Regions from separate parts of the Homo sapiens genome. Here region 2 is linked to region 1. The links come from fine-mapping of genetic effects on plasma protein levels. Region 1 holds a variant in brackets. A gene starts in the other region. All regions are shown on one strand. Distances are between the middles of the regions.

What was found. PIP is the chance, under the fine-mapping model, that this variant and not a neighbour inherited with it causes the effect. The UK Biobank Pharma Proteomics Project read protein levels with antibody pairs (Olink). The fine-mapping took linkage between variants from a reference panel, not from the people measured, so its PIPs are less certain.
Region 2: NOTCH2 starts here. The variant in region 1 is fine-mapped to the plasma level of the NOTCH2 protein (UK Biobank, PIP above 0.99).

What each region holds. Positions count from the first base shown.
Region 1 is chr1:147,902,669-147,907,979 of GRCh38, reverse strand. GJA8 (gap junction protein alpha 8) reads right to left here and starts at 5,185. Exons shown (of 2, transcript NM_005267.5): 1 at 5,119-5,185; 2 at 1-35. The coding sequence starts at 24. The variant C/T (reference allele first, on the strand shown) is at 2,631.
Region 2 is chr1:120,066,990-120,072,368 of GRCh38, reverse strand. It overlaps NOTCH2 (notch receptor 2), which reads left to right and starts at 2,707. Exons shown (of 34, transcript NM_024408.4): 1 at 2,707-3,035. The coding sequence starts at 2,963. LOC101929178 (a long non-coding RNA gene) reads right to left here and starts at 2,541. Exons shown (of 2, transcript XR_254374.4): 1 at 2,358-2,541.

The DNA of each region.
Region 1 (5,311 bases):
CCCCAGGAAACTCCAGTCGCCCATTTCTCACCCACCTGAAGAAATGAGGGAGAAGGCAAGAGCTGAGCGGCCGCAATGCAACCCTGAGTCAATATCTGTTTTTGCTAACGCGGGGTACCTCTCCTTTCCAAGTTGCCAGAACGGTCAATGTGCACACAGCGTCTATCCAGTGCTTCCTTTGTGCAGACTAGGACTAGAGAACAAAGAAGGCCCCGAAGAATGTGCTTCCATCCGCTTCCTCATCTGTAAAATGGGTTTAATAATAATAATACCTATTCTCATTCACTTCACAAATGGTCTGAAAGCATCAATGAGGCAATATTTGTATAATTCCTTAAAGTCCACCAAAAATAAGGATTCATTGTTGACCATAAATAGAAACCCTTGGTTACATGGATTTAAATCAAGACCACACACTGATCTAAGTTTCGTGAGACATAATGCTGAAGAGTTCCCTTATACTATGGGTGTCTGGGCTCCCAACACAATTCTTGTATGTATGAAATTGTCTGTGGCCATCTTATGTTTGAGTGTCAGAATATATAATGATCGTATATTTGAAGGGAAGTGGAAGGGGATTAGCATTTATTGAATACCAACTTTGTGAAAGAACTTTGACATTATATTATTTCATTTAACTTGATCCTGCTAGACTGTAATTTCCATGACGGTAGGAGCCATGCCTGTCTTATTTACAGCTATATACTCAATGCCTGACATACAGCCCAGCACACAGTGAGAACTTGATAAGTATTTGTTAACTAAGTTGATTCCAACAAATAAGAAAACTGAAGGCCAGGCACAGTGGCTCATGCCTGTAATCCTAGAACTTTGGGAGGCCAGGGCAAGAGAATCACTTGAGCCCAGGAGATAGAGACTAGCCTGGGCAACACAGTGAGACCCCATCTCTACAAAAAACTTTAAAAACTAGCTGGGCTCGGTGGTGCATGCCTGTGTTCCCAGCTACTTGGGAGGCTGAGCCAGGAAGATTGCTTGAGCCTGGGAGGTCGAGGTTGCAGTGAACCCTGATATGTGCCACTATACTCCATCCTGGGCAACAGAGAAAGACCCTGTCTCAAAGGAAAAAGAAAAAAAAGAAAAAAGAAATCTGAGGCTCAGAGAGGCTAAATATATTGTCCAAGATTAGACAGCTAAATAGCAGCAGTTCTGTTTGCTTGATCACAAAGGCTGGGTTCTTCCCACTACACCATTGAGATAAACTGCCTGCAATCAAAGCTACACAATTCTTTGACTTCTGTGCTCTTAATTTATGTTTCCTCTTCTCTAGGTTGAAATCTGGAAACCCTTATTAATAGCTTTACACATTGAGGGCCGTATATTTTTATTATTACTCTTTTAAATCCAAAGAACAGAGAGAATGCTTTGGGAAGGAATCATGTCACAGGATGAGGAAGGTCTTCTAGGACACTTTTAGTGTCCTATGGAATGAAAATGTTTCAGGGTCTGTAACATATGGCTGTTTTAATAGAGTCAAAAATTTGGTCTATAGAAAAAATATCGTTAAACATGATAGTATATAATGCCTGTAGCACAGCAATGGCTAATGGAAATGGCATTGAGCTGACAAGGGGCTGGCTGCAACTGGGTCATTCATCCAGTGCAAACCTGTAACCTATAAAGAATGATGAGCAAAACTTCCACCTCAATGGAGAACAGTTGTTCCTGCAGCTTGAACATCTCTAGAGTTATAAGTTTACTCATCACTGCCCTCAGACCAGGGCAAGAGCCCATGTTAGAGGATCTTGCTCTGGGCTTCTTCTAGCCATGCCCCATGCTATAGGCCTAGGAACCTATGGGGCTAAAGGGATATGCCTATTGTTTTTTAATCACAGTGATATTTGTTAAACACAAAAGCCTATTTCCAACCTGTGATTTGGAGTCTGGCCAGACAGAACCTGGTGGCAGGATACTAATTGCAGGCATCTGCAATGTCCAGCCTGTGCTGTCAGGGCAGGCACAATAGCTGTTCGCTTCTTGTGGGAGAGCAGAGAGTGCTCCTCCTCTTGAGGCCTCATAAGCTCCCAATCAGGCAGGGCATCCTGCAGCAGCTTCTCTTCTCCTGAAAAAGTGACAGCAGCTGTGGCATCCCCAGTCATGGGTCTGGCATTGGGAAGAGTTCCTTGGAGAAATGGGTAATGGAGAGGGGGAAGGACCCAGCAGCTCGGAATCGGAACCAGCAACTCAATCCCAGCCACATGTATCTATTTTTAACTCTTCAGACTATAGTTAAGTCTAGTAATTGCCCTGGTAAGAGTGGTAGCCATTCCCATTGCCTTTTGGAAAATAGGTGGGAAACATCACAATCAGGTAAGCAGCCCAAGCATAAAGCTCACTGGTGGCAGAGCCAGGAAAAAGTTCATTTCTTATCAAATAGTTCATTCTAAAATTTATGTTAAAACAGCAATTTGAATAACTGTACTTCTATAAGATTTAGCTAATATCTTACTATCTTACTAATATCTTACTGAATCTTAACTATCTTGCTAATACTTACCCTCATTGATATATCAGTTCATTTTTGACAGTGTATTTCACTCACATACCCACATGAATGTGTGTGATGAGCACATGCTCTCAGTCCTGTATGTTAACCAATCTTGTTTTCCCCC[C/T]TTTAGTATCAAAAGGTTTTGGAGGGCAGGAACCATTTTGGCCTCATCTTTTGTGAACCATCACAACACAGAACAAAGCCCTTCACAGAGTGGGAGCTCCATAGACAGCAGTGCATGGTTCTAATAGTAATCCTTGTGAAATCTGAAATTCTCAATCCCCAAATTCCTGTAATATGAATACTAGAGACCAAGGAACTTCAGTCCTCTTGCTACAGCTAACAGCAGAAAAATTAAGAACTTGTAAAAAATGGTAAATAACAAAAAGGATAGTAAATTGATCCCCAACCAGCTGCTCTGAGACACAAAACTGCTTATTTTGTATGAGATCAAATATATAAACTGGAAGGCCAACAATTCTTGACAAGAGTGTCATGATACATGTTCATGACACAAGAAGTCGTTCCTGACCACTCATTAGTAATTTTGAAACCAAAGCCAAACAAGCCCATGTCTTTCTATACTCTAAGCCGCCATGCTAAGATTGTATTTTTTTTTAAATGTCTAGTTACAGTTTCTTGTGATAACTGAAGGAGAGAAACTGTAATTTAGGACACAATCTTTCCAACCCCATGATGTTGAAACAGGCCTACTGTGCTGTTAAGGAGAGACACTTTAGAGCTGCGAAGGGAAATGTATTGGTTTCCTGACTTCTAACAGTGAAAATTTAAAGGAAGTCAGATCAGAGAAGCAAAGCGTTCTGTGGGAGCAGGGAGAAATCTGAACCAAAGGAAGACTATTTCTCTTCTCTTTCTCAGAGATAATTCTCTGTTTTATTTTGCTTGTGAAAATTTAGTGAACAGACCTATTACAGATGGAAAATAAATGGATAGAGTTCAAGCCTCCAACCCCAGGGTGTCCATATATGGCCAGGAACATCCCACCAGAAAATGATGGCTAGAGGTAATGATTAAAATAACACCTTATGTTTGGGTATCCTTGATCTAAGTGATACATTTTCACGTATCTTATTTCAGTCCTCATAACAAGCTGTGAACTAGGCCAGTGGTTCTCAGACTTAGATTTCACAGACTAGTATAATAATAACAAACTAGTGTGACCAACATAAGGATACCAACTCCTTATTTTGCCAAACAAGGACATAAAAATAAGAGTTATTGGCTGGGCGTGGTGACTCATGCCTGTAATCCCAGCACTATGGGAGGCCGAGGTGGGAGGATCACTTGAGGTCAGGAGTTCAAGATCAGCCTGGCCAACAGGGTGAAACCCTATCTCTACTAAAAATACAAAAATTAGCTGGGCACGGTGGTGGGGCACCTGTAATCCCAGCTACTTGGGAGGCTGGGGCAGGAGAATTGCTTGAGCCCAGGAGGTGGAGGCTGCAGTGAGCTGAGATCACACCACTGCACTCCAGCCTGGGCAACACAGCGAGACTCTGTCTCAAAAAAAAAAAAAAAGAGTTATTAAATTACTAACTACAACTACAGTCTATTTTCATCATCATTTCATAAAAGGGGATTTTAACACCACAAAACTGGAGAGGACATAACTTCAGAATAAAAGACAAGCCTTTAAATTGAACACACTTAACTTGGTGAAACATTTACTACATTGTTAACTTTATCATTGTCACATTTTGGTCACAGGTTGTGGAAACCTTCATCTTGAGCTAGAACTGACAGATCCCCAGATGGATGTCTGAGAACCAGTGAACTTGGCATTATCAATCCCCATTACCAGACAAAAAGACAGGCTGGGAGGTGAAATGAGTCTCCAAGATGGGGGCTTAGCTAGTGAGGGCAGAGCTAGGCTGTGAGCCCTGGTCTTCTAGATCTAAGCCCATTACAGCATAGCCCTCCTCTGGTTTTGAAGAGGCAGAATAACACATATACATCCATTAATAAGTTATCCAAAGCGTTCAATGGCCACTTACCACTCTGGTTGGTAACCAGGTGGAAAGTGCCTCTTTTCTAGTTTCTAGAACAGCCACTAGCCAGCAGTTCTCATAGATAGACAACAGAACCTGCTCCTAGGAGGAATTTTATGGTCCTTAGCCAGATCCCTTCCTGTGCTCCATTAAATGCTCCAACATGGAAAATGCTGAGCACGAAGCCTCCGCTACCCCCACAGCATTCAGTAATTATGACTATTATTTCTATTGTAGAATTTGAGTGAAAAGGGCACAAAACTTTTTCATAAATATCAAATACTTGGTTTAGGTCCCTGTGGATTCCTGTAGACATGAAAAGAGCTTAAGAAGTCAAATTGTAGTTTGAGTTTGGACATCTCTGTTTCCCCATCCTGCTGATTATTCCAGCATTCCTCTCCCTTCCAAACCTCTGCCAGTTCTTAGGTCAACTTGAAGAGGGTTTTCAGAGTTGGAGTGTAAGTCTAGCCATCCCAGCCCAAGACTGAATCTTATTGGCAACCTTTTTCCTTTTGGAGAAGCCTATATATGGCCCTTAGATTAGGCTGAGAAAGAACAATTGGGGGGAAGGTTACAAACTAATATCACCCAAGGAAAACTTGCCAATACAAGGAGTGTCCCACGGAGAAATATGTGCTCTTTCTCTCTTGGCGCTCAGCAGCAAAATGGCAACTTTCGTCTCTTTCCTTTGCTGCCTAAAAGCCCACCTCCCACTTCTCTACCCCGCCCCTACTGTGCTGCACGACTGAGCAGATATGACTGGATTGGCCCTGATGGGTAGGTTTTACTGTCCAGC
Region 2 (5,379 bases), 28 Mb after region 1:
TGAGTAGCTGGGATTACAGGTGCTCGCCACCATGCCCGGCTAATTTTTGGTATTTTTAGTAGAGACGGGTTTTCAACATGTTGGCCAGGCTGGTCTCAAACTCCTGACCTCAGGTGATCTGCCCACCTCAGCTTCCCAAAGTGCTGGGATTATGACATAAGCCGCCACGCCTGGCCTGCACATTTATTTTAATAATGTTGTCATAGCTACAGTCGCTTCTAGAGTTGCTCTTTGGGGATAACTATCTTATATTCTTCTGAATATATTTTAATAGTGACAAAACTTATCTTTGCAGGTGATTTTTAAAATTTGTATGCAGCCAAGTCACTATGAATTATCTTTAGTGAGTAAAGAGGAAGATCGAACTGGTAACACTGTGGGTAAACAACTGAAAAATAATGTTATCTTTCTCTGAACATACTTGCACAAGACAAATTCCAAAAATATTTTGACTACATTATTTTTGAAAAGGGTTTCCAGTATTTCAATGTGACTACTTTCACTAATGGTACTTGCTTACCTAAAGTGCTTGTTAACATGCAGTTTTGGAACTTCATAGGTCTATGCCCATACTGACTTGTACTTGCTTAGTGTTGTTTCACATTCTAGTTCAACATCTATTATGTGATAGACACTGGGGATTAATAGGCTGTGGTCTTTGCCCATGAGGACCTCAAAACTTAGTTGAGAACACAGAAATACAAAGAGTCCTGTGTGAAAAATAAGTATCGGTGTTAAGATAAAGAAGCGGCAGTGGAAGACAGTGGAGGGACTGTCTGTTAGGGGGAGGAATTTATTGCGGTGTCGGCAAAGCCTTCTTTGGACTGAAGGATGAATTATGATTAGAAGTTCATTAAGAGGAGGAGGGAAGGGGACTACAGGAGTCATTCCAAGCCAAAGGAACAAAAGATACAGGGACAGAAACAGCAAGATATGTTTGGGGGAATCTCAAGTTAGTCAATACTGTTATTGTGTGAAGTTCACAACAGGGGCAGGGAGGACAGGAGATGGGGCCCAATGACGAAAAGGCCTTGTATGTACCATGTTTAGAAGTTTGAATTTTATCCTATAGGAGTCAGGGAGAGGTTCTATGGGTAGGATTTCCCATCCCAACAGGATTGTAAACTCCCACATCCAATTAGTCACACCTCCATTTTTTTTTTCTGTTTCTTTAACATTGTCTCGGATTCATTCCTTCTGAAATCTACCTTATTAGTTCAGGTCTTCTTAAATTTGTGCCTGGACTGTTCACCAACTCTTGACTGGTCCTGGGGCTCCAGTTCACCTCTTGCTCCCCCAACAATCAATTTTCTACAGAATTATCAGAGCAATCTTCCTTTCCATCAATCTCAACTCTGTTCAAAAACTTTCAATAGTTTTATGTGACCTAAGAGGTAGCTGCCTCCCCACCCTTTCAGCTTGCCATTCAAGGCTGCATAATTTGGTCCCAACCCCCTTTCCGTCCTTGACTCCTCTCACTGCTAACAGAGACAGAACTCATTTACTTACTCTTTTGACTGTACCTTTGCTTTCACGAGGGCTCTTTCCTGGAATGATATGTCCATACAACTATTGTTGCTGTTCTTACTTTTAGCTCTTTTCTTAGAAGCCCACTTGTACCCAGGTTTGATCACACCCCCTACTCTCCTGCCCTGGAAGTAACTACTATTCTGGTTATAGTCTCTTAATATCTATATCTATATATATGCATCCACAGATAATGTGTAGTATTGTCTTGAAAAAAATATACATAAATGGTATACTTTGTCTCCCTCTGTGATTAGTTTTTTCACTATCATTTAGTTTTTAAGATTTATCCCTATTGACATAAATAGCTATAGTCTTTTCAATTACTGTGTTGCATTTCATTTTATAAATATACCATACATTATTCATCCATTCCTCTAAGGGTGGGCATTTATGTTGTTTTCAAGGTTTTGCTATTACAGTGTTACAACGAATATCCTTAGCTTAGCTGGTCTCCTTGTCTTATACAAATTTTACTGACCTTTCAAGATCCTGCTTTCATCCCAGCTCCTCTGGGAAAGCCTTCCCTGAATCCCCCAGCCCACAGCGGCAAAGTCTTGGTACTCAAAGTTGCTTGTGCATCTTTGGTATCATCCCACTGCCAAGCACACAGCTACGCAAAGTAAGGCACTTAAGAAATATTCGCTACACGGATGAACAAATGAATGAATGAATGGGGCAGCACCACTCCGTGATGGCTCTATTCCTTTTTAATGGACTTTGGCGCCTTGGCCCACTTTCCTTCTTTGACAGCACTGGTCCTACTCCAGAGCATTCCTCTAGCTAGCAAAGCAGTGTGTGGATGTGTGGGTGTAGGTGGCGATACAGACCTCACTGGATGAGGACCGCCTCTCCCTGCAAGTTCACGATCCCGGCAAACTCCAGTGCTTGAAGTTCAGAGTCCTACCCCACCCCCCTCACCCCCACGCCCCTTCTGCACTGGTCAAGCCAGCGAGCCGCTGCAGCCCTGATCGAGTTAAGGCGCGGCGGCCCCCGGGGCCGCTGGAGAAGGATGCGGACGGGGCCAGTGACTCGTAGTAGATCCCTCCGCGCGGAGCTCGGGCCGGCGCTTCTTCCTGCGGGAAACCCCTGGGTGCCCAAGGCGGCGGGGCCGAGGCCGCGGCGACAGTGGGGCGGGGCTTGCGGTGGGAGGAGGCGGCTGAGGCGGAAGGACACACGAGGCTGCTTCGTTGCACACCCGAGAAAGTTTCAGCCAAACTTCGGGCGGCGGCTGAGGCGGCGGCCGAGGAGCGGCGGACTCGGGGCGCGGGGAGTCGAGGCATTTGCGCCTGGGCTTCGGAGCGTAGCGCCAGGGCCTGAGCCTTTGAAGCAGGAGGAGGGGAGGAGAGAGTGGGGCTCCTCTATCGGGACCCCCTCCCCATGTGGATCTGCCCAGGCGGCGGCGGCGGCGGCGGAGGAGGAGGCGACCGAGAAGATGCCCGCCCTGCGCCCCGCTCTGCTGTGGGCGCTGCTGGCGCTCTGGCTGTGCTGCGCGGCCCCCGCGCATGGTGAGTATCGGGCTGAGGGGCGCTGTCCGCGGCGCCCGGGGCTGCCACCTGGGGCGACCCTTCTCCCCCTCGGTCCTTCTCTGTGTGGGAAGGCCAGGCTCGGCCGCCGGCGCGGAGCGAGGCCACTCGCTGGGTTCCCAAGAGTTTGGACATCGCCGGGGGCCCCTCCCGTGGTGCCCCGCCAACCGCCGGGGTTCCCCGCCGCCTCTGCTCCCCGCGGCCCGGGACCCCTTACACGCCTCCTCGGCAGGAGGGAGGCCGGCAGCAAGTCTCAGAAACTCCTTTTTCGTAGTGCCAGGGTGCAGGGAGGTGGGCAGTTTTGCCCTTCAGGTTCCGCGTTTCTTGGGGTCGAGCGAGAGCCGACGGCGGGCCTCGGAGGGGCTGAGCGAAGGAATGCCAGATTCTGGCGTGGAGAGCGGGGGCAGGGCCGCCAAGCCAAACGGCCTGCACCGTCGCAGCCAGCCTCGCCTTTGCCAGGGGGCGGCACATGGGCCGGGTGTGTGGGCTTGGTTTGGATGGGGACGGGGTTTTGCGGCGCGCCTGAGTTTTGACACTCCAACCCCACCGAAAGTCCGGGGGAGCCGTGTGTGCTGCTCGCGTCTTTGAAAGGTGGAGGCAGGAGAAGTAGGGCAACTGGTGTGGCTGCATGCTGAGGCACATGATTTAAAAATCTCAACTGCTGTTATTCTTTCCGAGGCGCGGAGCTCTGCTGCTGTTTCAGGCTGTGTCCAGACCCAGGAATGTGGTGTGACGATCACCAATTCCTCCAACCTGGCAGCAGCATTTGCTGCTCCTTTGGCATGGCTGGGGGTGGGGCACGGGCGGGTGAGAAAAAGTGGATACGTTAATTCAAAGGGCTTCCTTAGAAAGCTTCTTTATGGTTGGATGTTTCTAACACGGTTGGACCAAGGAAAGGGAATCAAATCATATCTTCCCCATCCCACCCACACTTTTAGATTCTACATTTCTTCAGACCCTTTAGTGGAAATAACTTGGGCTTTGGAGCCCTGCTCTGTAATCCTGGATTCAAATCCAGCTCTGCTATATGAACTCACCAATAAAATGGGAAAGAAATTATCCAGCTAATAGGATTAATTAAAATAATGTATATTAAACGGATGACACTCCAAAGGTGTTCAGAAAGTCCTTTCAGGGCCGAGGCTGTGTTTTACTGCTTCTGAGATTGATGCTCCCAGTGGGATGCTGTCTTGTGCATATTTGTTGAACGGAAAGCAGCCCCTTCTTTTTCTGAGCCTAATCTGAATAAAGATTTTTACCTTCACCAAAAAACTAGTACATGAACTACATCTGTTTTCAAAGAAAAGGTTAGGAAGATGATGAGCTTCAGAAAAATATGGTCTTTGTTCATTGTTAACAGTCAGTCGACATGTCAATCGCAGATGTTTAAAAAGAGAACAAGGTTATTTATCACCCGAAAATAGTACTGGGTTGTTCAGCACCAACTAGATACTTCTTGGAAAGTTCAAATTTCGTACACGTCTAGGTCACTAAGAATTTCAGAAGTGGACCAGGAGGCTTTGTAGTGATGAAGCAGAGCCGTTGTTTCTGAAGCATTTAATAAAGAGCATATATGATGGTGTTTTTGCTTTTCCTTTTTCTTTGAGTGAAAGCTTTAAGTGTAGCTTTAGGATAGAGAGGAGTATGATCAATGAGACAGTCTGAGGGTAATAATCCTTGGTCTATCATTAACTTGTTTTGGTAAATAACTTAATCTTCATGATATGTAGTCTCCTCACCTATGAAGCAGGACTAAAGGAATAACCTGCTTTAGAGAATTGTAGGGAATAATAAATATAATTGTAAAGTGATTTGAAAAATTAAGTATTAAATAATATGATATCAGAAATGGGATTACTCTGACACATAGGGCTTCTTTTATTATAGGATCTCAGTGCATAAAACTATGCCCTCCACCTCTGCTCTGCTGAGGTGCTGCGATTATTAGCTAGCTTTTAGGTAGTCAAGTTGAGTGTTAGTCAAGTTGACTCAAAGGATAGGATTTAGATATTTTGATTTTTAGACAGGTGTTCTTTAGATGCTAAACTAATGCAGTAGAAGAGATTTAGAAGCCGTTTCTCGGTACAAATCTTAAATCTTCTTAGAGTCTACAGTGAAGGCTTCTTGAATCCTCTTAATTTATTATTGTGTTTTGCTAAGGTACCAGTTGCAGCACACCCTTCTAAACTTTTGAGTGTTCCTGTGTTTGGCTTGTGGCCAATTGTTAATTTAAACATCACGGAGTTTCTAAGGCAAGGAGATGTTAGCAGTATGTCTGATTGTCTAAACAGCTATCCAGGACCATCCTCTTGCTCCTTGTTTTCTT